Homo sapiens: one gene and its partners. The protein of the gene in region 1 interacts with the protein of each later gene in a biochemical or structural test. Each region holds a gene or a part of one and is shown in the gene's direction. Other genes may lie near its edges. The genes, in order: UNC13B, RIMS1, DOC2A and SPTBN2.

Evidence for each region.
Region 2: the proteins of UNC13B (region 1) and RIMS1 form a complex in vitro, tested with the Homo sapiens proteins (one study listed by BioGRID).
Region 3: the proteins of UNC13B (region 1) and DOC2A form a complex in vitro, tested with the Homo sapiens proteins (2 studies listed by BioGRID).
Region 4: the proteins of UNC13B (region 1) and SPTBN2 form a complex in vitro, tested with the Homo sapiens proteins (one study listed by BioGRID).

What each region holds. Positions count from the first base shown.
Region 1 is NC_000009.12:35,157,018-35,165,030, forward strand, and holds the start of UNC13B (protein unc-13 homolog B), read left to right. Parts: upstream 1-4,991; 5' UTR 4,992-5,266; coding exon 5,267-5,288; intron 5,289-8,013. UniProt on the Homo sapiens protein: Plays a role in vesicle maturation during exocytosis as a target of the diacylglycerol second messenger pathway.
Region 2 is NC_000006.12:72,176,530-72,183,551, forward strand, and holds part of RIMS1 (regulating synaptic membrane exocytosis protein 1), read left to right. Parts: intron 1-3,045; coding exon 3,046-3,386; intron 3,387-5,754; coding exon 5,755-6,620; intron 6,621-7,022. UniProt on the Homo sapiens protein: Rab effector involved in exocytosis. May act as scaffold protein that regulates neurotransmitter release at the active zone.
Region 3 is NC_000016.10:30,008,011-30,014,842, reverse strand, and holds the start of DOC2A (double C2-like domain-containing protein alpha), read left to right. Parts: upstream 1-3,815; 5' UTR 3,816-3,940; intron 3,941-4,607; 5' UTR 4,608-4,620; coding exon 4,621-4,882; intron 4,883-5,285; coding exon 5,286-5,365; intron 5,366-5,566; coding exon 5,567-5,641; intron 5,642-5,737; coding exon 5,738-5,847; intron 5,848-6,832. UniProt on the Homo sapiens protein: Calcium sensor which most probably regulates fusion of vesicles with membranes. Binds calcium and phospholipids. May be involved in calcium dependent neurotransmitter release through the interaction with UNC13A.
Region 4 is NC_000011.10:66,691,214-66,698,235, reverse strand, and holds part of SPTBN2 (spectrin beta chain, non-erythrocytic 2), read left to right. Parts: intron 1-67; coding exon of another isoform or gene 68-391; exon of another isoform or gene 392-1,232; coding exon of another isoform or gene 1,233-1,338; exon of another isoform or gene 1,339-1,654; intron 1,655-1,695; coding exon 1,696-1,959; intron 1,960-3,872; coding exon 3,873-4,097; intron 4,098-4,374; coding exon 4,375-4,464; intron 4,465-4,789; coding exon 4,790-5,050; intron 5,051-5,135; coding exon 5,136-5,266; intron 5,267-5,495; coding exon 5,496-5,700; intron 5,701-6,577; coding exon 6,578-6,952; intron 6,953-7,022. UniProt on the Homo sapiens protein: Probably plays an important role in neuronal membrane skeleton.

The sequences.
Region 1 (8,013 bases):
GCACCCTTTGAAGATCTGAATTGGAAATATTTGTCATCTATTTTCTCTAAGGGCAGCCACTATAAGACTTCAAAAGAACCTTGGTCTCCACAGTGTTTTTTCTTAACCTAAATATTTCCTTTCTATGATCCCTGGTCTTTAGACAAACTCAACCAATTTTCAACCAGAAAATGTTTAAATTTACCTATAGTCTGGAAGCCCCCCTTTGAGTTGTTCCGTCTTTCTGGACCAAACCAATGTATTTCTTAAATGTATTTGATTGATGTCTCATGCCTCCCAAAAATTTATAAAACCAAGCTGCACCCCAACTACCTGGGGCTCATGTTCTCAAGACCTCCTGAGGGCTGTGTCATGGGCCATGGTTACTCATATTTGGCTTAGAATAAATCTCTTCAAATATTTTACAGAGTTTGATTTTTTTCATCAACATTAGTAAAGATTTTACTTAAGTTATGTAAACTTGAAAAAGCATTTGACTATTTTATTTTTTCCTGAATAAGTGTTTGATTTAAGCACTTTTATTTTCTTACGCCAATTAATTAGAGCTCTTTTATATATTTTCAGTAGTGAAACATTGTGTACACAACACATAAATACATAGACACATTAGGCATGCTGATAGAGGTACATCTTTTTTTTTTTTTTTTTGAGACAGAGTTTTTCTCTTGTCACCCAGGCTGGAGTGCAATGGCATGATCTCAGCTCACTGCAACTTCTACCCGCTGGGTTCAAGTGATACTTCTGCTTCGGCCTCCCGAGTAGCTGGGACTACAGGCATGTGCCACCACGCCTGGCTATTTTTGTATTTTTAGTAGAGACAGGTTTCACCATGTTGTCCAGGCTGGTCTCGAACTCTTGACCTTAGGTGATCTGCCCACCTCGGCCTCCCAGAGTGTTGGGATTACAGGCGTGAACCACTGCACCTGGCCTAGAGGTACCTCTTATAGATTCATAAAAAACGTTTTTTTTCCTTAGGCTTTCAGATTCTTTTTTTCCCCTCCTCCCTCCCCGCTACTTTCAGATTCTTGATAACCTGTTTCACAACCCTAGGCAGTTGTCAGCTAAATAGCCTTAAATTTGCATATTAAAGAAAACAACTCAGGTGAACTCCAAACAGCAAAATTTACATTATAAAGTGTGGAGAGAAAAAGTCTGGTGTGCTAGACGGAAATTGAAACAGATTTAATGGCCAATTAAACATAAAATTATAGAAATTATAAAAGCCTTTTAAATACACACACACACACATCCTATAGCTTTTACTTCAGAACTTTTAGCTATGAGATAAATTCAAATTTACCGGTTTGCAAAAAGAACTTGTTGGATCTAAACTGTGGTTTTTATCTTAACAGAAAATAATGGCAGATTTAGAGCAGGCAGAAAAGAATAGAGAAAAGAGGTCTTAGGAACTCTATAATTAGTAGGTCGACCTTAGGGCTCTTTTTTCTTAATGTAAATGTGCACAAAGACCATATTTTTTCCATTTTACATAAACTTTGGCAGTAGAGGTGCCATAAAACCTACAGAGTGCTCAAAAGAGGGTCATTCTCCTTGTTTTCTTCTCATTCTTAGATTATTTGTTTTCCACTTCTTTTTTTCTTAAAAGGAGAAACTGAGCTGTGGCTTAGAGTTTCTGTGTGGTGGATCATCACGTGCTGCTTGTGGGCAGGACTCCACAATGTGCCACCACTGAATGGTTTCCACCCTCTTACATGTCTCAGTTTCTCTCTCCAGAGGTTTATGACTTCTGAGAGGGCTCACAACACTGGGTGATCAGCCCTTCAATGTGTTTCCTGGATGAGCCAGTTTTTAAATTAAATATATATATATATATTTTTTTGAGACAAGGTCTTACTCTGTTGCCCCGGCTGGAGTGCAGTGGCATAATCTTGGTTCACTGCAACCTCCACTTTCTGGGTTCGGGCAATTCTTACGTCTCAGTCTCCTAAGCAACTGGGGTTACAGGCACGCACCACTACACCTGGCTAATTTTTGTATTATTAGTAGAGATGCGGTTTTGCTATGTTTGTCAGGCTTGGTCTTGAACTCATGACCTCAAGTGATCTGCCTGCCTCGGCCTCCTGAAATGCTAGGATTATGTGTGTGTGACCGCACCTGGCCTAAATTAATTTTTGTTGGGGATTTCCCTGCAGGACCACTGCACATCGTTCGGGGTCAACCTTTCAGACACTCCCACAAGGTCCCCAGTCACTCAGGGGCACCTTTCAGTTGGGAGGGGCAAATGCCCTTTCTTTTTGGAGCTGAGAAAACTCAGTCTCTGATATACCTATGAAAGCAACAGTTCAGTTCCTCATGCAAATGCACACAGACAAACGGAATTGAGATTAATGTTGGGAGAAAAAGCAATATAAAGGATCCTTCAGAACGGATCTCCAAACTAGAATTAGGATTTTTTTTTTTTTTTGAGATGGAGTCTCGCTCTGTCGCCCAGGCTGAGTGCAGTGGCACGATCTCGGCACAGTGCAACTTCCACCTCCCTGGTTCAAGCAATTGCCCTACCTCAGCCTTCGAATAGCTGGGATTACAGGTGCACACCACCAGGCCCGGCTAATCTTGAACTTGTGGGGTCAAGTGGTCCGCCCGCCTCAGCCTCCCAAAGTGCTGGGATTACAGGTGTGAACCACCGCACCTGGCCTAGAATTAGGATTCTTAAACAACGACTTCCTAGGAGAGAAAATTAAAAAAAAAAAAAAAAAAAAAAAAGGAAACAGCCAAAACCACTTCCTATAAACTGTGCTCAGCCACCCGTAACTTTGTAGCTCTTTTCCAACAATATACACACCAAGGTCAAATCCTCTCACAGTGCAAGGTCATCTCTGGCACCCAAAGCCAAAAAGGTCAGGTCATGCAATACAGGAAAACAGAGCTTTAGACCTAAGAAGAATCTGCCCATGACTCTTGAAATCCCACAAAGCCAAGAGAACACCCCAAAAGGGGGTGAGTGGCACCTTTGTTCTAAATTCTTTTTTTTTTTTTGAGATAGAGTCTTGCCCTGTCACCCAGGCTGGAGTGCAATGGCACGATCTCAGCTCACTGCAACCTCCGCCTCCCAGGTTCAAGTGATTCTCCTGCCTCTGCCTCCTGAGTAGCTGGGATTACAGGCACGTGCCACCATGCCTGGCTAACTTTTTTTGTATCTTTAGTCGAGACAGGGTTTCATCATGTTGGCGAGGCTGAGTCTCGAACTCCTGACCTCGTGATCCGCCCACCTCGGCCTCCCAAAGTGCTGGGATTACAGGCGTGAACCATGGCGCCCGGCCTAAATTCTTTAAAGAGGTTCAAGTCATTAGAAGCCTTCTCTCGATTTTTTGGTAATGCAGATGGCAAAGGGTGAAGGAGGTATAGGGTGGAAGAAAAGTAAACAAAAGAACAATTGAATTTTTTTTTTTTTTTTTTTTAATTTGAGACAGAGTCTCACACTGTAGCTCAGGCTGGAGTGCAATGGCTCGATCTCCACTCACTGCAACCTGCGCCTCCTGGTTCAAGCAATTCTCCTGCCTCAGCCTCCCGAGTAGCTGGGATTACAGGCACCCGCCACCATGCCCGGCTAATTTTTTTTGTATTTTCAGTAGAGACAGGGTTTCACTATGTTGGCCAGGCTGGCCTTGAACTCCTGACCTCGTGATCCGCCCGCCTCGGCCTCCCAAAGTGCTAGGATTACAGGTGTGAGCCACCGCGCCCGGCCTAAGAACAGTTTAATTTTTAAGACCAGGAAGCAAACACAGAAACCAAATACATGGTTTTTTGTTTTCTGTTTGTTTTTTCTTTTGCAGCTGTGAGGAATTTTACTCAAATTAGATAGGCCTTGTTACCCATAATTTGGAATTCTCACTTGGATTTGACCAAGTGAAGTAGAGTTGGTCAATGGGAAAAAGACAAACAAAATAAAAAAAAACCCAACAATATGATCACTGAGCACTCTAATGGTAAGCAGAAATTAAGACCAGCTGGTTGTTAACTTTAGCCAAGACAAAAATCCCTATTCAGCTACTTACCTAGGGGTGCGTCTCAGGCTGAAAACGGCTGTCTACCATCCCAGAAGTAGGAAAAAAACCCCTCATCTTCCCTGTTGGAAGTGAGCTCAAACTCCATAAAAGAGTTACCTGCCTTCCCTCGTCATGGAAGCAGGAAAACTTGCCTTCCTTGTTGGAAGCAAGTAAAACTCCAAAATAATAATAATAATAATAATAATAATAATAATAATAGAGGGAGTTGTACAACAAAATGAACTTTAGATCTCGACCAAATTTTGGGAGATCAGGGATTCTCTGGAGGGGGTGCTCCTAGACCTTAGCAAATTGTCCTGTTGGTTTGAGCCATGGAGTTAGCTCATGTTGGTACCAAGCATGGATAGGAGATTTGTCAAAGATCAGAGGTATCTCCACTCACAATCCCTCCGTGGTTACCATCCTTCATTCAGTAAATATTTACGGACTGATTACCATACACTAGGCACTATTCCAGACATTGGAGATACAATGATGAGCATAAAAAACGGTCTAGATAAGAACTGAGGTCTCCAGACATACTTTATGCCCACTCAGTTTTGTCTTTTGCCCTAGTTGCTAAACAAAACTTAACTTTGCTGTGCGGTGCGACTTCGTTAACTTAAAATTACAGGCTGTCAGCTATGACCGCTAGACTCTAAGAAAGTCCAGTGGAAATCCTTCAATGAAAAGAATCTGTTCTTGGGTGGAAGCCCCGCTCATGCAGGAGGAACAGAGGGCTTCCATTCTCGCGTCACACAACTGAGGGTCAACCCCTTGCTCCCTGCAGTAAGCCTGATTAGTGGGCGGAGCTTCCTTCAGGATCGCAAGAAAGAAAGGAGGAAGGGGACCCCGCCTCCTACGTGCTCGCGGGGGGGGGCGGGGTCGGTGGACTGGGCGTGAGTTAATTGGCTGGGGGGCGGGGCACCACGGGTTGGCTCCGCCCAGGCGCTCGCGCGGATCCCGGGTGGAATGACGGGAGGGAGTCCCGGCAGCTCCTACCTCCCAGCGATGGCGTCGCTGTGCCGCGCCCAGTCCCCAGCCTGCCGGCCGGTACTCACCGCTACCCGGAGTTCGCTCAGACGGTGAGATTTGGGGCGGGTCCGAGGCAGCGGCGGGACGCTACCTGCGACCGGGACCATGAGGAGCTGCCAGACCCGTGGGGCCGGTAACGAGAGCAGTCGCGGCACCTGCTGAGAGGAAAGAGGGAGCGGTCCGGCGCGGCTGGGGCGCGGCAGAGGCTTGCCCGATCCTCGGCCATGTCACTGCTCTGCGTGCGCGGTGAGTGCGCGGACTGAGGCGGGGAGGCGGGGTGTCGGCGTAGAGGTCCCCGCACCCTTCCAGTGGACGTCCGGTGACCGTCTCACCCAAACTTTACATCCCGTCCGTGCTTTGGGGGTCTATTATTTTGGCAATCACTTAACAATCACTTGAGTTCTTTCCACTTTCTTGTTTTCCCCCAAGCTCCTGCAAGGGACGATTAGCTCTCCATTCTGGTAGCCATGTGACAATGTTGTTGGACTGCAGGCTCAGATCCTATTAAACAGTGACTGGGGTTCTCTAGTGAGAGTGGACGAGTTAGAAGACCGCGGATGGTTGGTGCCTGTGAATGGTGGGCAGCCTCTCATTCTTTTCCTCCTCCTCGCACCGTAACGCTACAGTATGCTTAGTAGCAGGTTCTTTTTATCACACTTTGAATGCGTTAGTGGTACAGCTGTCACATCCCTTCTATTGCTTGTCTTGTCCCCTGCCACTTCCCTGAACACTAACCGGTAGTATAGGCTAAGATTATTCTTCTGTTCCACTTGGGAGGATGTGGTGACTGCTTTTGAGGATAAGAGGTATGATTTATTTTTATTTTTATTTTAGCTTGCCTCACAGTAACTCAAGGTGAAGGGCCATTATTGCTTTTCCCCTGAGGACACTTGACCCATCTAAGAAGATATCTTAAAGCAAGAGCTTTGGGGTTTAAGATGAGGCATGGTACGCGAACTAAGTTCTATGTGGGTAGAGACTGTTTCTTATTAGTTTTTGTATTCCTGGTGTCTGACGTAGTAGAAGCTTAATGCTGGTTTTGAATGAATGCAAGTACTGTGACTTCAGAGAGATTATCTGATCAGGAAAACACAGGGTTTGGATTAGCCATTGAATTTGATCTCGGGAAATTCAGGTTACAGCCTATCATATCTGATGTGTCTTGATTATGAATGAGAGAGCATTTATCAACTAGAGCCTTTACCTGATATCTTTTACTGGAGAGTTCATATTTCTTTTGGCTCTACAGATTAGAAGCATTGTTGTTGTTTGTGATTTCTCCAATAACGATGTTTCCCCCAGCTACTGGCAGATGAAACTGCTTTGCTCTGTTCTCTTCCACTATTTTGTTGAATCTGCATTAACCAAAATGGATTTGGCCATTTCCCGGGATTATGAGATATACAGTTTTTCTTCTTTCATGGTTGATTTTTCATTAATGAGAATTTTGCTTTGCTTTTAGTAAGACATTTTCTCTCAGCAGCTGGGAATCTATTTATTCCTTTAGATCCCTGCTGCTGAGTAGCAGGATTTGGGAGAGGTTGGACTTTGCTGTGTCTCTTGGACAGTTTAATTCTCTACGGCCACACTGTATTACAGAGCTGGTCCTTATGAAAGACTCTTTAGGCAGGAGCACTCGTGAATCAGAAATTCCTATTTAACTGAATTTATATAACTACTGGTGTTTTCATTTGTTTTAATAGCAGGCAGGTTTCATTGTCTAGAAATTCTGCTATTTAGCTAACTTCTTTCCTTTTTAATGTTACTTTAGTGAAGTTTCTTCTTTTTTGAATCTGGAGAAACGAGATCAGCAGGCCATTGTCTTTTTGAATAGAGATCTAGAAGATTTTAAATACTGAAACAAACAGGTACCTTATATGCAGATATTCATATTGAATGGCAAAGTATTCATTTTGGGAAAACTTACAGAAATGAATTGAAATACATCTTTATTTTTATTTCTTTTTCTTTTTTTGAGACAGAGTCTCATTCTGTCACCCAGGCTGGAGTGCAGTGCTGCGATCTTGGCTCACTGCAACCTCCACCTCCTGGGTTCAAGTGATTCTCATGCCTCAGCCTCCCGAGCAGCTGGAATTACAGGAGTGAACCACCAGGCCCGGCTAATTTTTGTATTTTTTGTAGAGACAGAGTTTCACTGTGTTGGCTAGGCTGGTCTTGAACTTCTGACCTCAAGTGATCCATCTGCCTTGGCCTTCCAAAGTGCTGGGATTAGAGGCATAATCCACTGCACCCAGCACAAAATACATCTTTCTAAAATGACATTCCTTGCGTTGTATTTTGGCAGTAGGAATGTTGTATTCTGAAAGCAGTCTATATAGTGATATTTATTACAACTCAATTTCAATTCATCTTGGAGTAGAATCAATTAGAAACTTCCTATGCAGAGTTCAAAAAGTAGTTAACTTGATGTAGAAATTGGCAAACTGGTATTGAATTAATCATTCCTAAACATTTCATTCAAGAAGTCAGTTATTTTGTCTTGCCCTTTAATCATGCCTTATTGCCTGCAGGTTTAAGGCTCTCAATACTCTGACTCCAGACTTGTGGCCTTCTATTCTTGCCTATCCTTATGCAGACTTTGCTCTAGCACTAACTTTGTTTATTCCTGCCTCTGCTCTGTTCTGCACTTGTGCCCCCTGAAATACTCGTTCCATATTTTCTGCCTATCTAAAATGTATTCTTACTTTCCCAGCTAACAGTCTACTTTTTTTGTTGTTGAAAACTTCTTCAGGTCCCCAGTCCACAGTGATCTCTTTTTCCTTTAAATCCTCGGAGCACTTGTGGTCTGAACAGTGCCACTAGTTTGGAAATGAATCATATGCTGCCTGCAACTGGTCTTGTATTGTGGTGCTTATGGTGACCCAGACAAAGGAAGTAATTGCACTGGTCAGATCAGATCTGGAATTTTGTGTTCAGCTGTGGTATTTCCTTCTAAGAAGCATATTGAGAA
Region 2 (7,022 bases), on another chromosome or scaffold:
ACTGAAAATAGAGACTGGGAGGTGATATTTTGATAAAAATAAATATTTTAACATTGCCATGGTTAATTTTACTTTCAGTTTGGAGGATGGATTGACTACACTTATAGTTAATTTAAAAATACAAATTTAAAAATGTTGTGGTGTACAAGGAAATAAGACATAGAAAAAGTTTGGAATTATACAGTATTTTACTAAATGTTAAAAACAAAAAAATTAACAAAGCATCACAGACTTAAATGAATACAAAGTATTTTAAGAATAGAATTTAAAATGCCTATGCTGTTTTGACATAGTCACTAATTGTAACCTTTTGAATAAACTGGAAATGAAATTAAATTGTAAAATTCAACTTATTTAATAATAATAAATTGTGTTTCTTTTAATTGATCTGGTAGCAGTTCTGCACATACTCAAAATTTGGAACATGCCCAAATCTGGCAGTTAGTTCTCATTGACCCATTTTTTGTAACGTTTAAAAATGTGAAGCAATCAAAATAAGATTGTGATAATAATTTCTAGAGAATATTCAAATGTAAAATGAAGAGTATCCTTTACCCTTCATCAGTATTATTGTGCTCCTTTCTGCTTCTTTATTTAGCTTTATTCAATTTTAGAAACTTTGTAATTGTAAATTTGTGTTTTCTGGTTTTTTAAAAACTGCATATTTATCCTAAGTATACCTTGATATTTCTGTAGAAAAGAACCTACTTGATTTTATTTTATTTCTTATTATTTATTTTGAGATGGAGTCTCGCTCTATCGTCCAGGCTGGAGAACAGTGGCGGGATCTCAGCTCACTGAAACCTCTGCCTTCCGGGTTCAAGTGATTCTTCTGCCTCAGCCTCCCAAGTAGCTGGGATTATAGGCATGCACCACCATGCCCGGCTAAGTTTTGTATTTTTAGTAGAGACGGGATTTCACCATGTTGGCCTGACTGATCTCGAACTCCTGACCTCAGAAGATCTGCTCCCCTCAGCCTCCCAAAGTGCTGGGATTACAGGTGTCAGCCACCACACCTGGCTGAAAAGAACCTACTTTAAATGATGATAATAAGTTGCTTACTATTAGTCTGAGAAATACAAATTTAACGTCTTCTTATTTGATGTAAAATAGTCAAAATTTCATACCAGTCTTGTTGAATTACATGATTTCAAACTTTCTTATTATGGTCTGTCAGCTAAAGAGACAAAAAACAAACCAACCAACCAAAACCTTCCCACCACACACGTCCTGTCCCCACTCAGGGTTCTGGGCAGAAGAGACTCAGTGTCACTGACTGTTCATGAAGGTCCTGGCCCTGGAGTACTGCACCTTTTAATGTTACCCTTAATATGTCCATGTTCAAACAATCAGGACTTCTGAGGGACCTACTCAGTAATAGATTTTGTAAAATATACCCTTATTTGGCTAGCACTTAAATTGAAGTTACTTTCCATAAAATCCTTATTTTGATATAGGTTTATGCAATGAATTGTTCATCTTGTTTGACATCTTAGTAGATGAGAATTCCGTAATATTGGTTATAATACTTTGTGTAGACATTATACCTAACTGCTTTTTTGAACCTAGTACACTTCATTTTATGACTGGGAAAGTCTAAATAAATCAATTAACCTTCATGAATTTTAAATTTTTTATAGCAAGTATTTCTCTTCAGTCTTAATTTTTCCTATATTATAATTCATTTGAGTTTTCTTTCCTGGAAAGCAGTTCTTAATTCACCTGCAGTATTTTCCTTTTAAAAAAGTGTATTACTTTTTTCCTGTCTTTTTCTTATTCTTATTTTAGCTTCATCTTATTCTATGGCTACAGTTACAGTTTTTCCCCATTTATCTGAATATTTTCAGTAGTTCATTTTCTTCATTTGACCTACTAAACAATGCTTCTTTTACTATTTTCTATTACTTATCAGTTAATGTTTCTACGATTTATTCATCCTGATGCAATATTTTTGAGTACATGTTGATTGAGTCAGTATTTGTGAAAAGGAAGCCTAGAGTTTGGTAATTAGTTTTTCCTGTGGAGGTAGTTTCTGAAGTAGAAACAAACACAAAACACCTGAAGTGCTTTTGGAGGCATGTAACTGAGGCAGCGATGTAAAGTCACAGCACAAAGAAACAGAGGTACTGAGGATATTTGAAAAGACAGCTCATGGAGCTGTTAGCACCTATCTTTGCCCTGTGACAGCTAGTCATTGCTGCTATTATTATTTTTTATTATGATAATCGTCCTCATTATTACATTCATTTTAAAGGTCATCAAATGGAGAACAGACATATAGTTTATTTTAAGTGGTGCTACATCTTATAATTTATCAGTGGATATGTTGCTAAATGATGGTTCCCCAATAGCTCTCCTTGGGGAACATTACATTGGAGTGGTCACATATGAATAAACTCAGAGTCACATTTATTGCTTTAGTAAATATGTGCATGGAAAATTATATTTTATAGCATAAATAAGCTTAAGGTTAGTTTATCACTAAGAAACTAGAGAAAATATACACATTGACCTTTTTTGTGTGCTTACTTTGTATGTTTCTTCTATGTGAATATTTTTAATATTGCCTTTAATTGTGGGTGATTTTTGAAAAGACAGACTTTTTAAAAATACTTGCAAGTACTGAGGTTTATGTATTTACGTACTGATTCTGTAGTTCCTGGTAACATTTTTCTTTTTTTTTCCTGGTAACATTTTTCTAATCAGTTAACTACCTTGCTTAGAACATTTTTGCTAACACTCCAGAGTCAATTATAAAAAATATGACAGATATATGGTAAAAGGAAATTCAGAATAATCAAATCAGAAATGCTGAGAAAAAACCTCTACTCTGGCTGCTGAGAGGCTCTCTAGTCTCAGACAAGTCCCTGTCTAGGCATTCATATATTTGACTGTGACTTGTGGGAGGACCATTTTCACAAGAAATTTGCAAGGATAAATATGAAAATGAATACTGTTCTTTTTTTCTTAAATATATTTTAAGATACTGAAAAATTATTTCCAAGAGGGCATAAAAATTTATATTGTTCTTTCTTCTTCAAATAGGTTATGTGGGTATGCAATTTATGTCGAAAGCAACAAGAAATCTTAACCAAATCTGGGGCATGGTTCTTTGGAAGTGGCCCTCAGCAGACAAGTCAGGATGGAACCCTGAGTGATACAGCTACAGGTGCTGGCTCTGAGGTACCAAGAGAAAAGAAAGCACGACTCCAAGAGCGATCGCGGTCTCAGACACCCCTAAGCACAGCAGCTGCCTCCTCCCAGGATGCTGCTCCTCCCAGCGCACCACCAGACAGGAGCAAAGGGGCTGAGCCCTCGCAGCAAGCCTTGGGGCCTGAACAGAAGCAGGCTTCATCCAGGTCTAGAAGTGAACCTCCTAGAGAGAGGTAATAGTTCTTTCACCCTGTAAGCAAAAGGCAAGATTTTGCTAGGAGAGCAAAGCCGTTTTCAAGAATTTAACTTCTATTACGAGGAATATGTGGAAGTAGTACTTCTCAGGCCCCACATGGAAAAACAAAAGGCCTGAGGGGCGTTGTCTATCTCTAGAATGTATTCCTTAGGAGACCTTTGTTGAAAGCATTTCTTTCATATCATGCACAGATGTAAACATGAACTAAGTCACCCAGCTGAGCTACCAACTTCCAATGATGAACTCAGAAAAGCTCTTAGATCATGTTTCACTTATAAACCTAGCCCTTTAATTAAAAGTGTGCTCTGAGAGGATGTGATGGGGGAATCTGACCTATCAGAAAGTATGTGGACACATCAGAGAAGCCTTCTTTAAGGGTATTTCTTTTATGCTGAGCTCTAAAGAGTGACTTTGAAATTAACCAGGAGAAGGGAAGGATGGGTGCTCCAGGTATCTGCACAGGCACATGGCCTGAAGGAACAAGCCCAACGTGAGGGCCTCCTAAAGGATAGCTGCTGGCTACAGTGCAAGTAGCAGAGGCAATGTGGAGGAGAAAAGGCTGGTGAGGTGGTGAAGGGACAGGTTACATTTTATAGCTTTTATTGTAGGTGAAAGGGAAGCCACTGAATATTTAAACAGGGACGAATATGATCAGATTATTTACTTTGATTGATTCATTCAAAAATGTATTCATGGGCAAACATGAAGCTATGCACTGGGAAAAAGTGTTGACAAAGAAGACAGAGCCCTTATCTTCATGAGGCTCATGATTTTGGGGCCAGGACTTTTGTTAGCACCTAGACTGGGCTTATTGTTTTTGTATGTGTAACCATTACTTGGAGAAAGGAGGCTCCAAGGAAAGCTTTTGAACCCCTTTTCAAGCAAAGCCCATACAGTAAAAGATCAAGGACTTCAAAGTTAAATAGGTCTGGATTCTAGTCCTGGCTCTGCCACAATAGGCAGTAAAAACTCACTTGCAGGGTTGTGGCAGGTATTAAAAGAGAACATGTGTTCCCAAGCTGGCACATAGTAGGCTTTCAGTGAATGTAGCTATTATTCAAGCCAGTAGTCATTGTGTATTTACTACAGATAAACACTGTGCCAGGAACCAGAGGGCATAAAGATGATTAGAACATACATGGTCCCTTTTCTGACAAATCCTAGGGAAGAGACCACACACTATTCTAGGGAAGACAGACACCTAGGTAATTAACAAGGATGCTAATTTGATCAAAGCTAGGCAATATGTATAGTATTTTGAGAGCCCTAGGAAAGAGGAAGTGACTTCTCAATTAAGCTTTGTAAGATACTCAGGAGTTGTAGGGGAGCTACACAGCGTATAAGAGGGCAGTACAAGAGAATGAGTGTTACTAAGCTATTTGGAGAAAGGATAGAAAGGACACCAGAGATATCTCAGGGAACGTAGAATTAATAGCATTTGGTGACAAATTGTTGTGGGAGAAGAAGAGACAAAAATACTGAAGCTGCAGTTTGGAACTGGTTGGAAGATGATATCTTTAAATAAGATAGAGAATTTGGAGCTGTAAAGTTTCTAAAGAGAAAAGAGTTCTGTTTTTGACATATAGTGAAAAACTATAAAAATTTCAAGAACAAGGGCTGAATAGATACTTTTTGTTCTGACTTTTTAGTTAAAATTTGAAGAAGATTGATAGGGACAAATAACTTTACTAATGATATAAATTCACAGGAAAGCAATGAGGAATTGGGAAGTACAGAAGCAGGAAGAGAGGTGGCCAGTGTAAAGAGCTGGGCAACTTCAGGGAGAAGCAAGATTGAAAGAGACACTGTTTATTTGTTTTAAATTACTGAAGAATTCTTGACCGTATTTTGTACTGTCAAGGAGTTAGAAACAGAAAATTAAAGGTAGAGATGAGAAAAAGTATAATTAGTAGAGCAAAGAATCAGAGACACTGGAGAACTCCTTCCATTTGCATGACACTCTACCCTTTCATAAAACATCTTCACAGATGGTGTCTCTAATCCTCACATGAACCTTGCAAGGTAAGTATTTTTCAGCATTTCAAGAAAAGTAAATTGATTCAATGTAAACTTCTAACAAGAGCAACTATGCTTCAATGAGCTGCTAAATGTAGTACAAGCATGACACTCTTATGAAAACTATATTTGGTAATAATTAATATGTGTTCCCATTAGATCCCTTACCTTGTAAAATTCCAACACCCTTACAGTTCCACCTTCAGATCCAAATCCCTATAACTAATTATTGTAACTGAAATGATTTAAGACTGGAATGAGAAGAAAACATGTTTTTTATGTCTAGTCTTTATAAATTGCTCTCCTTGACGTTCCTTTGTATATCATAGAAAGAAGACCCCAGGGCTTTCCGAGCAGAATGGCAAAGGAGCCCTGAAGAGCGAGCGGAAACGCGTGCCAAAGACCTCAGCGCAGCCCGTGGAGGGGGCCGTCGAAGAACGGGAGCGCAAAGAAAGGCGGGAAAGCCGAAGGCTTGAGAAAGGGCGATCACAGGATTACCCAGACACGCCGGAAAAACGGGATGAGGGCAAAGCGGCGGATGAGGAAAAGCAAAGAAAAGAGGAGGATTATCAGACCAGGTACCGCAGCGACCCGAACCTAGCTCGGTACCCGGTGAAACCGCCGCCTGAGGAGCAGCAGATGCGCATGCACGCCCGGGTGTCCCGCGCCAGGCACGAGCGGCGCCACAGCGACGTGGCGCTCCCGCGCACCGAGGCGGGCGCGGCGCTGCCGGAGGGCAAGGCCGGCAAACGCGCGCCGGCGGCAGCCAGGGCCTCGCCGCCGGACTCGCCGCGGGCTTACTCGGCTGAGAGAACTGCGGAGACCAGGGCGCCGGGCGCCAAGCAGCTAACGAACCACAGCCCGCCGGCGCCCAGACATGGGCCGGTTCCCGCAGAAGCCCCGGAGCTCAAAGCCCAGGAGCCCCTCAGGAAGCAGAGCCGCCTGGACCCCAGCTCGGCGGTCCTCATGCGGAAGGCCAAGCGCGAGAAGGTGGAGACCATGCTGCGGAACGACTCTTTGAGCTCAGACCAGTCCGAGTCGGTGCGGCCGTCCCCGCCCAAGCCGCACCGGTCCAAGAGAGGCGGCAAGAAGCGGCAGATGTCGGTGAGCAGCTCTGAGGAGGAGGGCGTGTCGACGCCCGAGTACACCAGCTGCGAGGACGTGGAGCTGGAGAGCGAGAGCGTCAGCGAGAAAGGTAAGGGGGCGGCGCCGGCCGTGCGGGGACTTCAGCCAAGTGAAGAGGCGTGGGCAGAGGTGCAGGTGCTAGGCTAGTTGCTGGGTTCAGCATTGAGGCTGGGAATGCTCACAGATAAGATAGCGTTACCGCCAGTGGAAGGTCTTATTTTTATTAATTTAATTTTATTGATTGATTTGTGGGATTTTAAAACACAACAAGCTCCAAACTTAGGCTACAAAAGTTCTTGGTGATTTTGCATTCTGTCATTCTGGTAAATTTGGTATGCAGTCTAATATTTTTAAGATATTATTTTAGAGTGGATTTATTATTCTGTGAAAAACAATTTGTTTGCTAGAAAATGAAAATTATGCCTTATAAAGGAAGTAGACATTAAAAAAAAACCACATCAGTTACGTAATA
Region 3 (6,832 bases), on another chromosome or scaffold:
TTCTCCTGCCTCAGCCTCCCAAGATTACAGGTGCCCGCCAACATGCCCAGCTAATTTTTGTAATTTTAATAGAGACAGCGTTTCAGCATGTTGGCTAGGCTGATCTTGAACTCCTGACCTCGTGATCCTCCCGCCTCGGCCTCCCAAATTGCGGGGATTACAGGTGTAAGCCACCATGCCCAGCCTGCACTTTGCTTTTTTTTTCTTTGAGATGGAGTCTCGTTCTGTCGCCCAGGCTGGAGTGCAGTGGCGCAATCTCGGCTCACTGCAAGCTCTACCTCCTGGGTTCATGCCATTCTCCTGCCTCAGCCTCCCAAGCAGCTGGGACTACAGTTGCCCGCCTCCACGCCCAGCTAATTTTTTGTATTTTTAGTAGAGATGGGGTTTCACCGTGTTAGACAAGATGGTCTCGATCTCCTGACCTCGTGATCCACCCGCCTTGGCCTCCCAAAATGCTGGGATTACAGGCGTGAGCCATGGCGCCTGGCCTGCACTTGGCTTTTCTAAGTTAAAATGAAACTGTGAAATGATTCTAGGGCCAGGCACAGTGGCGCACGCCTGTAATCCCAGGACTTTGGGAGGCCGAAGCGGGAGGATTGCTTGAGTCCAGGAATTTGAGACCAGCTTGGGCAAAGTAGTGAGACCTTGTATATTTAAAAAAAAAAAAAAAGATGATTCTAAACAAGAGCAAAACAGCCTCTTGTGGCTGCACCCTATTTCACTGCATGGAATTACATCATGACTGATTTAACTGGTCCCCTGCTTCTGGGTATCTCAGTTGTTTCCAGTCTTTTGGAACGTGCTACATTTAAGAATTTTGAACTTCATGGCCAGGCGCGGTGGCTCACAGCTGTAATCCCAGCACTTTGGGAGACCGAAGCAGGCGGATCATGAGGTCAGGAGTTCAAGACCAGCGGGGCTAAGATGGTGAAACACCGTCTCTACTAAAAATACAAAAACTTAGCCAAGTGTGGGGCGTGCGCCCCTGTAATCCCAGCTACTTGGGAGGCTGAGGCAGGAGAATTGCTTGAACCCAGGAGGCAGAGGTTGCGGTGAGCCAAGATCGCACCATTGCACTCCAGCCTGGGCAACAAGAGTGAAAGTCTGTCTCAAAAAAAAAAAAAGAAAAAAAGAATTTGAACTTCTATTATTTGGCTTATGGGTTGGCATATCTGTAAGATAAAATCCTAAAAGTGGAATTTCTGGGTCTAAGGATTTTTTTTTTTTTTTTTTTTTTTTGAGACAGGGTCTCACTCTGTTACCCAGGCTGGAGTGCAGTGGAGTGATTATAGCTTACTGCAGCCTTGACCTTCTGGGCTCAAGAGATCCTCCCACCATCACGAGGTCAGGAGATCGAGACCATCTTGGCTAAGAAGGTGAAACCCCATCTCTATTAAAAATACAAAAAAATTAGTCAGGCGTGGAGGCGGGCACCTGTAGTCCCAGCTACCCGGGAGGCTGAGGCAGGAGAATGGCATGAACCTGGGAGGTGGAGCTTGCAGTGAGCCGAGATCACGCCACTGCACTCCAGCCTGGGCGACAGAGCGAGACTCCATCTCAAAAAAAAAAAAAAGAAAAGAAAAAAAAAGAAGAGAGATCCTCCCACCTCAGCCTCTTGAGTAGCTGGGACCACAGGCACACACCACTATGCCTGGATTTTTTTTTTTTTTTTTTTTTTTTTTTTGTAGAGACAGGGCCTCACCATGTTGCCCAGGCTGGTCTTGAACTTCTGAGCTCAAGGGATCAGTCCGTCTCAGCTTCCCCCCAGCCCAGACACTTTGGCTTTGCCCATTTTATGGGTAATAAGTGATATCTCAGGGTTTTTTGTTTGTTTGTTTGTTTGTTTGTTTTGAGACTGAGTTTTGCTCTTACAGCCCAGGCTGGAGTGCAGTGGCACGATCTCAGCTCACTGCAACCTCCGCCTCCCGGGTTCAAGCGATCCTCCTGCCTCAGCCTCCCAAGACACATACCACCACGCCCGGCATTTTTAGCAGAGATGGGGTTTCACCATGTTGGCCAGGCTAGTCTCAAACTCCTGACCTCAGGTGATCCACCCACCTCGGCCTCCCAAAGCGCTGGGATTACAGGCGTGAGCCACTGCGCCCCGCCCCCTCAGTGTTGTTGACTTTACATTTCTCTTACTTTTTTTTTTTTTTTTTTTTAAGAGACTGTGTCTCACTGTGTTGCCCAGGCTGGCTTCACTCAAGCGATCCTCTCGCCGCAGTCCCTGGAGTAGCTAGGATTACAGGCACCCGCCACCACTCTCGGCCCCATTTCTCTTATTTAAAAAAAAAAAAATTGCCGTGAAATACGCATATCGAAATGTACCATCTTCACCATTTTTAAGGGTAAGATTAGGTGGTGTTAGGTATGTTCAGTTGTCGTGCAACCAGATTGCTGTTTTAAATAACAGCACTTAGAGATGCCGACTTCGTGCCAGGCCCAGTTTGGGACATTAGGGACTCCCAGATGAATCAGCCGCTCCAGTGGAACTCCCTGCTGGTGGGGGAGGCACTGGCGAAGCGGTGCTGAGCCGAGTCCTGACGGCGCTGGAGCTGAGGGGCAGTGCGGGATGCCCCAGGAAGGCTCCTAGGAAGAGGGGACCCACGGTGACTTCCTAAGGAAGCGCGGTTCCCAGGTAGAGGAGCGCATGTGAGCCAAGATCCCTAGGCCTGAGCCGTCTAGGTGTGTCCCAGGAACTGCAGGAAACGGTTGGGTGAGTCAGTGGTGGGCAGCGAGGGTGATAAGCCCCTTCGTGTCTTCGGGATGGTAAGTTTGGGGCACAGGTGAGTGAAGACCGAAGGCCAGGGGTGGACTGACACTCCGTGGCAGGCGCAGGGCCGGGCAGGGGGGCGGCTTGGGGGTGGCAAGGTTTGGGTGAGAAATGGCAGCCCATGGGGAACTACCGCAGGGCTCTGAGACCTTCAGAGCCAAGCCCCGACGCCCCTTCCCACCTGCGGGGCAGAACTGGGGATGGCAGGGGGGAGGGTGGTTCCCAAAGGAGATACCATCCCTGGTAAGGGGACATGGGCCCCTGGGAGTTGGGTTGGGCCACAAGGAGAGAGGCCTGAACGGCCAAAGGGAGGGGGCGTGGGGGAAGCCGCAGCATCAGACCTCTGCCTCCTCCCTCAGATCGTGAGGCTCCCCAGCCTGGCTCGGGAGACCCCGAGATCCCCGGCCGGTGACAGCAGGCGACCCCCTGCTCCTGTCAACCTGTGGGTCCCTACGGACGTGGGGAAGGGAGGAGGGAGGCCCCAGCTCCCTGCGGGGGAGGGGCGTGAAGACGCGCGGGGGTGGGGGGAGATGAGCCGGCGTCGCCATGACAACGAGGCCGGTGGTCCGGCCTTGGGGACCCGGGAGGGAGGGAGGCGCCGTGGCCGCGCGCGCGGGCGGGGGCGGGGGGCCAGGTCTCCCAGGAGTAGTTGGGGAACACCCGGCGATTCTGGCGGCTGCTTCCTGGTGGCGCAGGGAGCCCGCGTGTTTGCGAGTGCGTGTGTGTGCGAAGTTCTCCGGGTAAGTGTGCCAGCGCGCGCCTGGGTGTGTGCAAGGGTGTGAGCGTGCACACGTGGGCACGGGCGTGTGCGCGCGGGGGTGCCCGGTTGGATGTGTGCACACGAGTGTGTGCCGGTCCGCGTGCCCCTGCGTGAGTGTGCGCGCGCGAGCACACGTGTGTGTGCGCGCTCGCGTGCGCTCCCGAGCGGGCCCCGGGTGGGAGTCCGAGATCCCGCCCCCTCCCCAGCCCCAGCGCCCCTCCCCGTCCCCCGCCGCCGCGCCGGCTGCATCCTCGCCTCCACCTCGCTCACCCCCTCCTCCCCGCACTTTCTCGGCGCTCCCTCCCTCTCGGCTCGCACAGCTCGACTCCGCGCTCTCCTCGCCGGCCGCCGCCGCCCAGCCTGCGCCCGCCGTCCCCCCAGTGCCTGGGCACCTGTTGGAGGCAGAGGCAGGTGCAGGGGGCTGGGCAGGCCGGGGGCGTGAGGGTGCGGGGAAGCGTGCCAGCCTGTGTGCGCTACGGGGGTGTTCGGCTCTCCTGCGGCTGCAATTTCTGGCTCCCCTGAGGAGCCAGAGGTGGCATCTGAGGCTGGGGTCTCCACCGTGGGCTGTGGTGAGCGAGCGGGGGAACCAGGCAGGCAGACAGGTCCTGGGGCTGAATGAGGGGACAGTGGGCAGTTGGAGCCTAGAGGGGTGGGTGACACCCTGACTAGACCAGCGCCTGGTGCAGAGGAGGACAGAGCCTCCGAGAAACAGAGGCGGGGCCCTGCAGGGCCCCTTGGGGGACAGGCAGGCTCAGGAGCAGAGGGGAGCCCCGGAGGAGAGGAAGGAGCTGGCAAGATGATACAGGGACAACCTAGAAGTGGGTGGGTGAGGACGGGGTGGTGCAACCTCGACTTCTGCAAGGAGTGGGTTGGCAGCCCAGCCCCTGTGGAGTCAGCTTGGGGTCTGCAGGGCCCAGGCCTCCCACCTGCCACCGGCTGGCACACACCACCCTCTCCCTCGACACCTAGGAAGGGAGGCCAGTGAGGGCCCCACAGACCGAGGAGGCCGTCGCCTGGCCCTCAGCCAGGATGGCTAGGTATGATGGGCTCACTGGCTCACACGCCCTCTCCTAGCCAGGGGTGCTGCATGAGGGGCCGCAGGGGCGATCGCATGACCATCAACATCCAGGAGCACATGGCCATCAACGTGTGCCCCGGGCCCATCCGGCCCATCCGCCAGATCTCTGACTACTTCCCCCGGGGACCAGGACCTGAAGGGGGCGGCGGGGGCGGCGGGGAGGCCCCCGCCCATCTGGTCCCCCTGGCTCTGGCCCCCCCTGCAGCCCTCCTTGGGGCCACCACGCCTGAGGATGGTGCGGAGGTGGACAGCTATGACTCGGATGATGCCAGTGAGTCTGGGGGCTTGGAGGCCCCATGTGCTGGTGGGGGTCTCCAGGCTTGCCGTGGTGGGGGGAGAGGGGGATGGGCCCTGCTGGCTGTGCATGTAGGTAGGGGAGGAGGGCAGTGGGGGGGTGGCAGGGACGGCCACCACAGCTGCAGTCAGCGTGGAGATTACAGCTTCAGCAAGGCTCAATATTCAGTATTTCTGCTGAGACACTCCACCACCCACACAGCCCCAGTTGCGGCCGAGCCAGGGACCCAGACGCACACACGCATGGGCCCACTCAGCCTCTTGCACTCACACTCGCGGGCTGGCAAGAGAGAGAGACACACAGAGCCAGTGCCCACCTGCTGGCCTCTCGCACACACCTGTCTCCATACCGACCCATGCTGCCTTTCCTCTCTCTCCAGCCGCCCTAGGCACGCTGGAGTTTGACCTTCTCTACGACCGGGCCTCCTGCACTCTGCACTGTAGCATCCTCAGGGCCAAGGTGGGCACTCCCTGCCACCCAAGCCCGGGCCCGGTTTGCGTGCAGCCCCCAGAGGGGGCCCATTCCTCCTTCCCTTCCCAGGCCTGCTCCTTCGTCCTGCCCTTGCCCCCTCCTTCTGGGCTCCTCCAGGGTCCAGCTCTACAAGAGGGATGGAGAGAGGTGCCGGGAGCCTCTAGCCCTCTCCCCTGCCCTCCTCTCCAGGGCCTCAAGCCCATGGATTTCAATGGCCTCGCCGACCCCTACGTCAAGCTGCACTTGCTGCCTGGAGCCTGTAAGGTAACAGCCTCCTCTCGCCCCGCCCGGCCCAGCCCATGACTCCAGCCTGTGGGGCTGGAGGACAGGTATTGAGAACCTTTCATCCCCACATCCCAGGCCAATAAGCTAAAAACGAAGACTCAGAGGAACACACTGAATCCCGTGTGGAATGAGGACCTGACTTACAGCGGGATCACAGATGACGACATCACGCACAAGGTGCTCAGGTGAGGGCCCCCCTCCCCACCACCCAGCAGCAGCTCGGGGACAGCTGACATTGTAACCGCTGGTTGGTTGATCTATGTCCCATTAAGCCCGTACCTCTCTGATGCTCAAGAACCATCAGCGGCTCCCTAGCCCCTTTGGCAGCAGGCCAAAATTCTTCCCTGCCATTCCTGCCCCTCAATATCTCCTGCCTGCCAGGTGTGGTGGCTCACACCTGTAATCCCAGCACTTTGGGAGGCCGAGGTGGGCGGATCACTTGAGGTCAGGAGTTCAAGACCAGCCTGGCCAACTTGGTGAAACCCCCGTCTCTACTAAAAATACAAAAATTAGCCGGGCGTGGTGGCATGTACCTGTAAATCCCAGCTACTCGAGAGGCTGAGGCAGGAGGATCACTTGAACCCGGGAGGCAGAGGTTGCAGTGAGCCGAGATCGCACCACTGCACTCCAGCCTGGGTGATGGAGACTCCATCTCAAAAACAAAACAAAAGTATCTTCTGCCCCTCAAACAGAGGACTCCCTTCTTCCAACTGGCCAGTTCCACAACTCCTGAACTTTTCCTGTTGTTTTCTATCTGGAAAGCTCCTTCCTGCCAGCCTAAATTCCGCTCATCTGAGGTTCAGTCCAAGCTCTGCCCCCTCCCAAAAACGTTCCTGGGTTGCCGAGACCCCTTCTCAGAGCCCTTGGCTTAAGCCAGACCTCTGCAGCTTTGGTCTGCCCCTTCCGTGCCTTGAGTTCCCCTAAAATCTCTTAAGGAGTGAAGTCTTCAGGGACAGGGAACTTGCTCCGTCATCCTAGGAGATGGAGATGTAGGGAGAGTACTCCCTCAAGTCAGGTGGCGGGCAGCGAAACCCAGGCTCTGGAGAGACCTCTGCCTTTGTGCTTGGATTTGCAGCTGGGACCTTCCCTGATGGTCAGGGCTGTGCAGCAGAGAGGCCACCTTGGTTTCAGCTATTCGGGTGGAATGGAGGGGAGGCCAGAGGCCAAAAC
Region 4 (7,022 bases), on another chromosome or scaffold:
AGCCTCAGAGAATAAGTGAATGAATGAACATGGCTGTTTCCCAATAAAACTTTATTTGTAAAAACAGGCAGTGGGCCAGATTACCCCGTGGGCTGTATGTAGTCTGCCAATCCTTATTTTCGAGTCTTGCCGTCCCTGGTTCTTGGTCTCCCACCCAGCTGTTCCTCAAGAGTCAAGGACAGATAAAGCTTTATATCTGCTCAGCAAGTATCCCTACAGAACATGGTACGTGCTCAACAGTCTGCGAGGCACTGCAGGGTCTACGAAAAGACACTTTCCTTTTCTCAAGGGCATGATGGTTGGGACAAAAGGAGACCAGTGTGCTTTCAAGTGTTTCCATTCGTTCAGCAAATATTTACTTGGTGCTACTATATCCAAAGCATTGTATTAGGCCCTGCGTGGGGTCCGAAAGGGATCCCATGGTAGGCTCCACCCTGAAGGAACAACACTGTAGCCAGGATATGAGGCATATATGCAGGTAGCTAAATCGAATCCAGAGCAGAATCTGATGAGTGCTGTGAGAGTGGCCCCGTTGAAGCCTGGGGAATAAGGAGAGAGGAGATATGGAAATTCTAGAAGCAGCAACATCCAGGGCAGTCCATGGAGGATGAGTAGAATTTGGACAAGTGGAGATATGGAGGAAAAGATGTTTCCAGGTAGAGAAAACCAAACAGAAAACCAGTGGTAGGCAGTGCCTGTTTGGGAGCAAGGGGGTGAGTGAGTCCAGCAGCAGCACAGAATGTGTGCAGGGCCCCATGGAAGAAGAGGTGGGAGAGAAGCCCCGGGAAGTCCTGACCACCACATGCGTGTGCTTCCAAGTGTTGATTGTGCTCAGGGTTGTGAAGCTACCCAGGCAGTGCTAGCCTTTGATGCTCTCCATCCTGACAGCCACAGCCACCTGCAAAATGGCCTGAAGGCAGTGTCTGGGTTTGTGTTCCCCTAGAAGCAGACCCTGAAACAGTGATTCTAGGGAGGTGTCCCCGGGAATGATCAGTAGGGGGGTGGAGCCATGAGAAGGGACAGAAGTCATGCCAGTTACCCCCATGGGCATCAGGAGCCCAACCCTCATGGGGCATTCTGCGGGGGTGTAGATGGAACACAGAACACAGCACTCTCACAGCCACGGCACAAGGATGCTGTGTGTTTATCCATCAGCTCCCTGTCTGTCACTGGTTGAGGGCTGCTTCTGGGCTTGTTAACTCTGTGGCTCTTCCAATTTGCCTTCCACACAGTTCAAGAGAGCACACTTCCCTCACCACCCCAGACACAGAAATCCTCAAGCAGAAAAGCTGGAAGTGGGGAAACCAGGTGGGACTCAACTTGCTATCACTGAAGTGAAGAGTAATGAGTTGAGAAATACAAAATGATGGCAAATAACTCAAGTCAATGTGCAGTGTGGTGCCAGAAACCACAGGCACCAAGGAACCCAAACTAAAGAGAGTGCAAGGGCTTCCTCGTTGAAATGCTGTTTGAGCTGGGTCTTGAAGGAGGAGTGGGGTTCATCAGCAGTGAGGGAACAGCAGTTTAGAAGGGATTTTAAACCTCCGTGAAGAGTGTGTCGATAAGAACACACAAGGACTTGGAATTATTGCCCACACTTCAGGTCTCTACTGCCCGTAAGGCCCCTGGTCTGCTCTCAGCCTCTAAAGTTCAGGCTAATTTGGGCACTTTGACATTTTCTGTCCTGCCTTCCAGGAAGGGCGAGAGCTCACCCTTGAGAAGCCAGAGCTGAAAGCCCTGGTGTCGGAGAAGCTGAGAGACCTGCACAGGCGCTGGGACGAGCTGGAGACCACCACCCAAGCCAAGGCCCGCAGCCTCTTTGATGCCAACCGAGCTGAGCTGTTTGCCCAGAGCTGCTGTGCCCTGGAGAGCTGGCTGGAGAGCCTGCAGGCCCAGCTGCACTCGGATGACTACGGCAAGGACCTCACCAGCGTCAACATCCTGCTCAAGAAGCAGCAGGTGTGCTGTGGGCCTTTGATGGGGATGGTGAACAGCAGAAGAAAGGGGCTGCAGCTTTCAAGATTTGGGAGGCCAGCTGAGGCCTGGCAGATAACACCTTCACTAGCATTTCCCAGAGTCATTTCTTTGGGCAGCCAGTATCAGAATCTCTAGGGATATGTCGCAGTCAGGGTTAGAGTTAGGAGACAGACCCCCTAATAATTTGACGATGAGAACTTCAGTAAAAAGAAATATTAATTAGGCCAGGCACAGTGGCTCATGCCTGTAATCTCAGCACTTTGGGAGGCCAAGGCAGGCAGGTCGCTTGAGGTCAGGAGTTCAAGACCAGCCTGGCCAACATGGTGAAACCCCGTCTCTACTAAAAATACAAAAATTAGCCAGGCGTGGTGGCGCACGCCTGTTATCCCAGCTACTTGGGAGGCTGAGGGCTGAGGGAGGAGGATAGCTTGAACCCAGGAGACAGAGGTTGCAGTGAGCCGTGATCATGCCATCGCACTCCAGCCTGGGCAAGCCTCTGTCTCAAAAAAAAAAACAGAAGTATAAATTAGTAAAAGGTGGTAAAGAGAACTCTATAGCAGGGGTCAGAAAACTTTTTTCAGTAAAGCACCAGATAGTAAATTTTTGGGGCTTCATGGGTCGTAAGGTCTATGTCACAGCCCTTCAACTCTGCCCTTGTAAGGAAAAGCAGCTGCGGATTATATGTAAAATAAGGGGTATGGCCAGGTGTGGTGGCTCACACATGTAATCCCAACACTTTGGGAGGCCGAGGTGGCCGGATCACTTGAGTCCAGGAGTTTTGAGACTAGCCTGGGCAACATGGCAAAACCCCATCTCTACAAAAACTACAAAAATTAGCTGGGCGTGGTGGTGGTGTGTGCCTGTAGTCCCAGCTACTCAGGAGGCTGAGGTGAGAAGATTGTTTGAGCCTGGAGAGTCGAGGCTGCAGTGGGCTGTGATCGTGCCACTGCACTGCAGCCTGGGTGGCAGAGCGAGACTTGTCTCAAAAAATTTTTTAAAAAGGGGTGCAGCTGTGGTCCAATAAAAACTTTATAAGGCTAGGCAGTGGGCTGGACTTGCTGGTCCCTGCTCTGAAGAATGCAGAATGGGAAGTGTAGGGAGCAGCTGACACCTCTGGGGTTGAGGAGTCCCCCAGGAAGGAGCAAGATGGCTGAGTCTCAGACCTCCTTGGAGAGGGCGGAGGCCCACTGAATGGCCTGGAAATTTGCTGGGGTATCACAGGCCAGAGCATGTCTGAAGCCAGCAAGCCAAGGCTGGCCAGCAGGAAGTGGCCACTAGAGTGCAGCAAAACTTGCCAGAGAGTAAGAGCCACCGGATCTCTTGCGCACTGTGGACAGTTTTGCTGTAGGAGGAAGAAAAGCACCTTGGAACCGTGGAATGCCCCACATCTGCTAGGCATTGTGGTGTCCCTCCAGCGCCCTCTGCTGACAAGGCCTAGATTGTGCCTGCTGGCAAAGGAGGAATGTTTCCAGGGGCCAGTTCCAGTGTCTCAAAGCAGGGCCACGATGGATTGGGGATGGAGAGACAATGAATTGATAATGGGCACAGTTATCACACTACCCTGGATTTTTTAATTTCAATCTTTTAGATTCGCGGGTGTGGGTGCAGGTTTGTTATAAGTTATATTGTGTGATGCTGAAGTTTGGGGTGTAATTGAACCCATCACCCATGTAGTGAGCACAGTACCCAATAGGGATTTTTTCAACCCCTGCCCTTGGATTCTTGTGCATATAAAGTTCGAGATCCACTGATCCAGCCCATGAGGGGATGCTCTCCCTGGGTGAGCTGCAGTGATGAGCAGCCACAGTGGGCTGGATAGAGACTGGTTGGTGTCTCTGCTGGGCATGAAGGCGGAAATGCAGAGCTAACATGTCCTTCCTCCTGGCGGTTTGCAGATGCTGGAATGGGAGATGGCTGTGAGAGAGAAGGAGGTGGAGGCAATCCAGGCCCAGGCCAAAGCACTGGCCCAGGAGGACCAGGGTGCAGGGGAGGTGGAGAGAACCTCGAGGGCCGTGGAGGAGAAGTTCAGGGCCTTGTGCCAGCCCATGCGGGAACGCTGCCGGCGCCTGCAGGCTTCTCGCGAGCAGCACCAGTTCCACCGCGATGTGGAAGATGAGATTGTGAGTCACTGGGGCCAAGGACGGCAAGCTGCCCCCAGCCATGTGGTTCTCCAGCCTCCCTCCTGGATGCCAGGGAGATGCCAGCAGGGCTCTATTCCCTCTTCTCTTTGGCATTGACCATCTCCCCTATAGGGAGACTTGGAGATGCCTCCCAGAACCAGAGATGACTGTTCCCCACACACAGGGCGGTAGCCCCAGGTGTCCCCACTCCCACTAATCAGTCCCTGCTGCTTGCCTTGCCCTCTGGGCCTCCACTGACCCCCTCTTCCTCTTCCAGTTGTGGGTGACAGAGCGGCTGCCCATGGCCAGCTCCATGGAGCATGGCAAGGACCTGCCCAGCGTCCAGCTTCTCATGAAGAAAAACCAGGTGAGGCAGAGGCTGAAGGCAAAAGAGAAGTTCCCAGGAGCCTGCCCAGACTTGGACGTGTTTTTTCTTAAGACCAGGCCCCCCTCGATGCTGAGTGTAACCCTGGACTTCAGTGGCTGTCTTTCCTCACCTTGGGAGGGTGGGTCCTCTCAGTAGGAGATAGTGGGGGCTGGGCGGCTGACGGGTGTTACCATCGCACCCCCAGGCTAGGAGAGGGAGCAGAGGACCCAGGAAGGAGAGAGGCACAGGGGTGAAGGGTGGTCTCCGGGAGCACGTGGGGCTGGGGCAGGACTTTCAGCATTTTCTCTTCTGTGGCCATGGGCAGACCCTGCAGAAAGAGATTCAGGGCCATGAGCCCCGGATCGCGGACCTGAGGGAGCGGCAGCGTGCTCTAGGTGCAGCAGCAGCAGGTCCAGAGCTGGCTGAGCTGCAGGAAATGTGGAAACGCCTGGGCCACGAGCTGGAACTTCGAGGGAAGCGACTGGAGGATGCCCTGCGAGCCCAGCAGTTCTACCGCGATGCCGCCGAGGCGGAGGCCTGGATGGGCGAGCAGGAATTACACATGATGGGCCAGGAGAAGGCCAAGGTGAGGGCCAGGACAGAGCCCAGTGTATGTGACCAGTTCTGCCCTCCCCTGACCTGATGCTGGATGCCACTGTCCCTTCCCCCAGGATGAGCTGAGTGCCCAGGCAGAGGTGAAGAAGCACCAGGTGCTGGAGCAAGCCCTGGCCGACTACGCGCAGACCATCCACCAGCTGGCGGCCAGCAGCCAGGACATGATTGACCACGAGCACCCAGAGAGGTGGGTGCAGCGGCAGCCCGGCCCAGCCTGGGGGTGGAGCCGGCTGCAGGAACAGGAAGGTGCAGGGAATGTGGAGCCTTCAGTGCTGTGTGCACGGAGCCTTCTAGAAAGCTGGAACACAGGGTGGGCGAGCTGTTGGGAGACTCAGAGGGACAGGGCTCCACAGAACAGACCGGAGGTCAGAGCTACACCCCTAAGTCCCACAGTGCCTCCCTCACTCTTCTTGCAGCACTCGGATATCCATCCGCCAAGCCCAGGTGGACAAGCTGTATGCCGGCCTGAAGGAGCTGGCTGGAGAGCGGCGGGAGCGCCTGCAGGAGCACCTCCGGCTGTGCCAGCTCCGCCGCGAGCTGGATGACCTGGAACAGTGGATCCAGGAGCGCGAGGTGGTGGCGGCCTCCCACGAGCTGGGCCAGGACTACGAGCATGTGACTGTGAGTGTAGGGAGGGCACCCAGCTCAGATCAACCGTGGGAAGAGTGGAGGACCCACAGGGAGACTAGGACCTAGTCCCAGGCAGAGCACTGAGGGGCTAAGGGGCAAGACCAGGCTGAGCAGGCACTGTCCTCCTGGTTTTGAGGTATATGATTTGAAGAGGCCGGGCATAGGCTCACACCTGTAATCCTAGCACCTTGGGAGGCTGAGATGGGAGGATTGCTTGAGTCCAGGAGTTCAAGACCAGCCTGGGCAACATAGTGAGACCCCCCATCTCTACAAAAAAAATTTTTTTTTATTAGCCAGGCACAGCCGTGCATGCCTGTAGGCCCAACTACTTAGGAGGCTGAGGTGGGAGGATCTCTTGAGCCTGGGAGGTCGACACTGCAGTGATTGCGCTAGTGCACTCCAGAGCAAGACCCTATCATCTCTAAATACATACACACACACACAATTTGAAGAATTGTACAGAAAGGGGACATGAAGCTGAGCTGAGACAAGGGCAAACAGGAAATTATCACTCACACTTTTCAACAGAATTCAACAAAACGGAGTATGATCCACCCCCCCGACAGTTTGGGGGCTTGGACCCTCAGTCGTACAGAAATATGGACCATAGTTAGGGTATCCTTGTCTGAAGCCTAAGGGTCCCAAGCACCTTGAAACGCCTTTGCTGGGGGTGGAGGGAGTCTGTCAAATACAGGGTCAGTGGGAAGCAGCTGCACCTACTCCTTAACCACAGGGAAGAAACCTGTCCCGGCCCCCATGCAGCGGGGAGAGGTGGGTTCTGAGTTTGGAGTGGAGGACTCGCTCCATCAGGCAGGGACCACATCCCCTAACATCACGGCATGGTCTGTCCATCTGCTTCCTCTACCAGATGCTCCGAGACAAATTCCGAGAGTTCTCCCGGGACACAAGCACCATCGGTCAGGAGCGCGTAGATAGCGCCAATGCGCTGGCCAATGGGCTCATTGCTGGGGGCCATGCTGCACGGGCCACCGTGGCCGAGTGGAAGGACAGTCTCAACGAGGCCTGGGCTGACCTGCTTGAGCTGCTGGACACACGGGGTCAGGTGCTGGCCGCGGCGTACGAGCTGCAGCGCTTCCTGCACGGGGCACGCCAAGCCCTGGCGCGGGTGCAGCACAAGCAGCAGCAGCTTCCGGACGGGACTGGCCGCGACCTCAACGCTGCCGAGGCCCTGCAGCGCCGACACTGTGCCTACGAGCATGACATTCAGGCCCTCAGCCCCCAGGTCTGACCCAAGCATGAGGAGGTGGGGGAGGCTTAGAGGAGGCCATGGGGGAAATGCCGGGGAGAGTTCC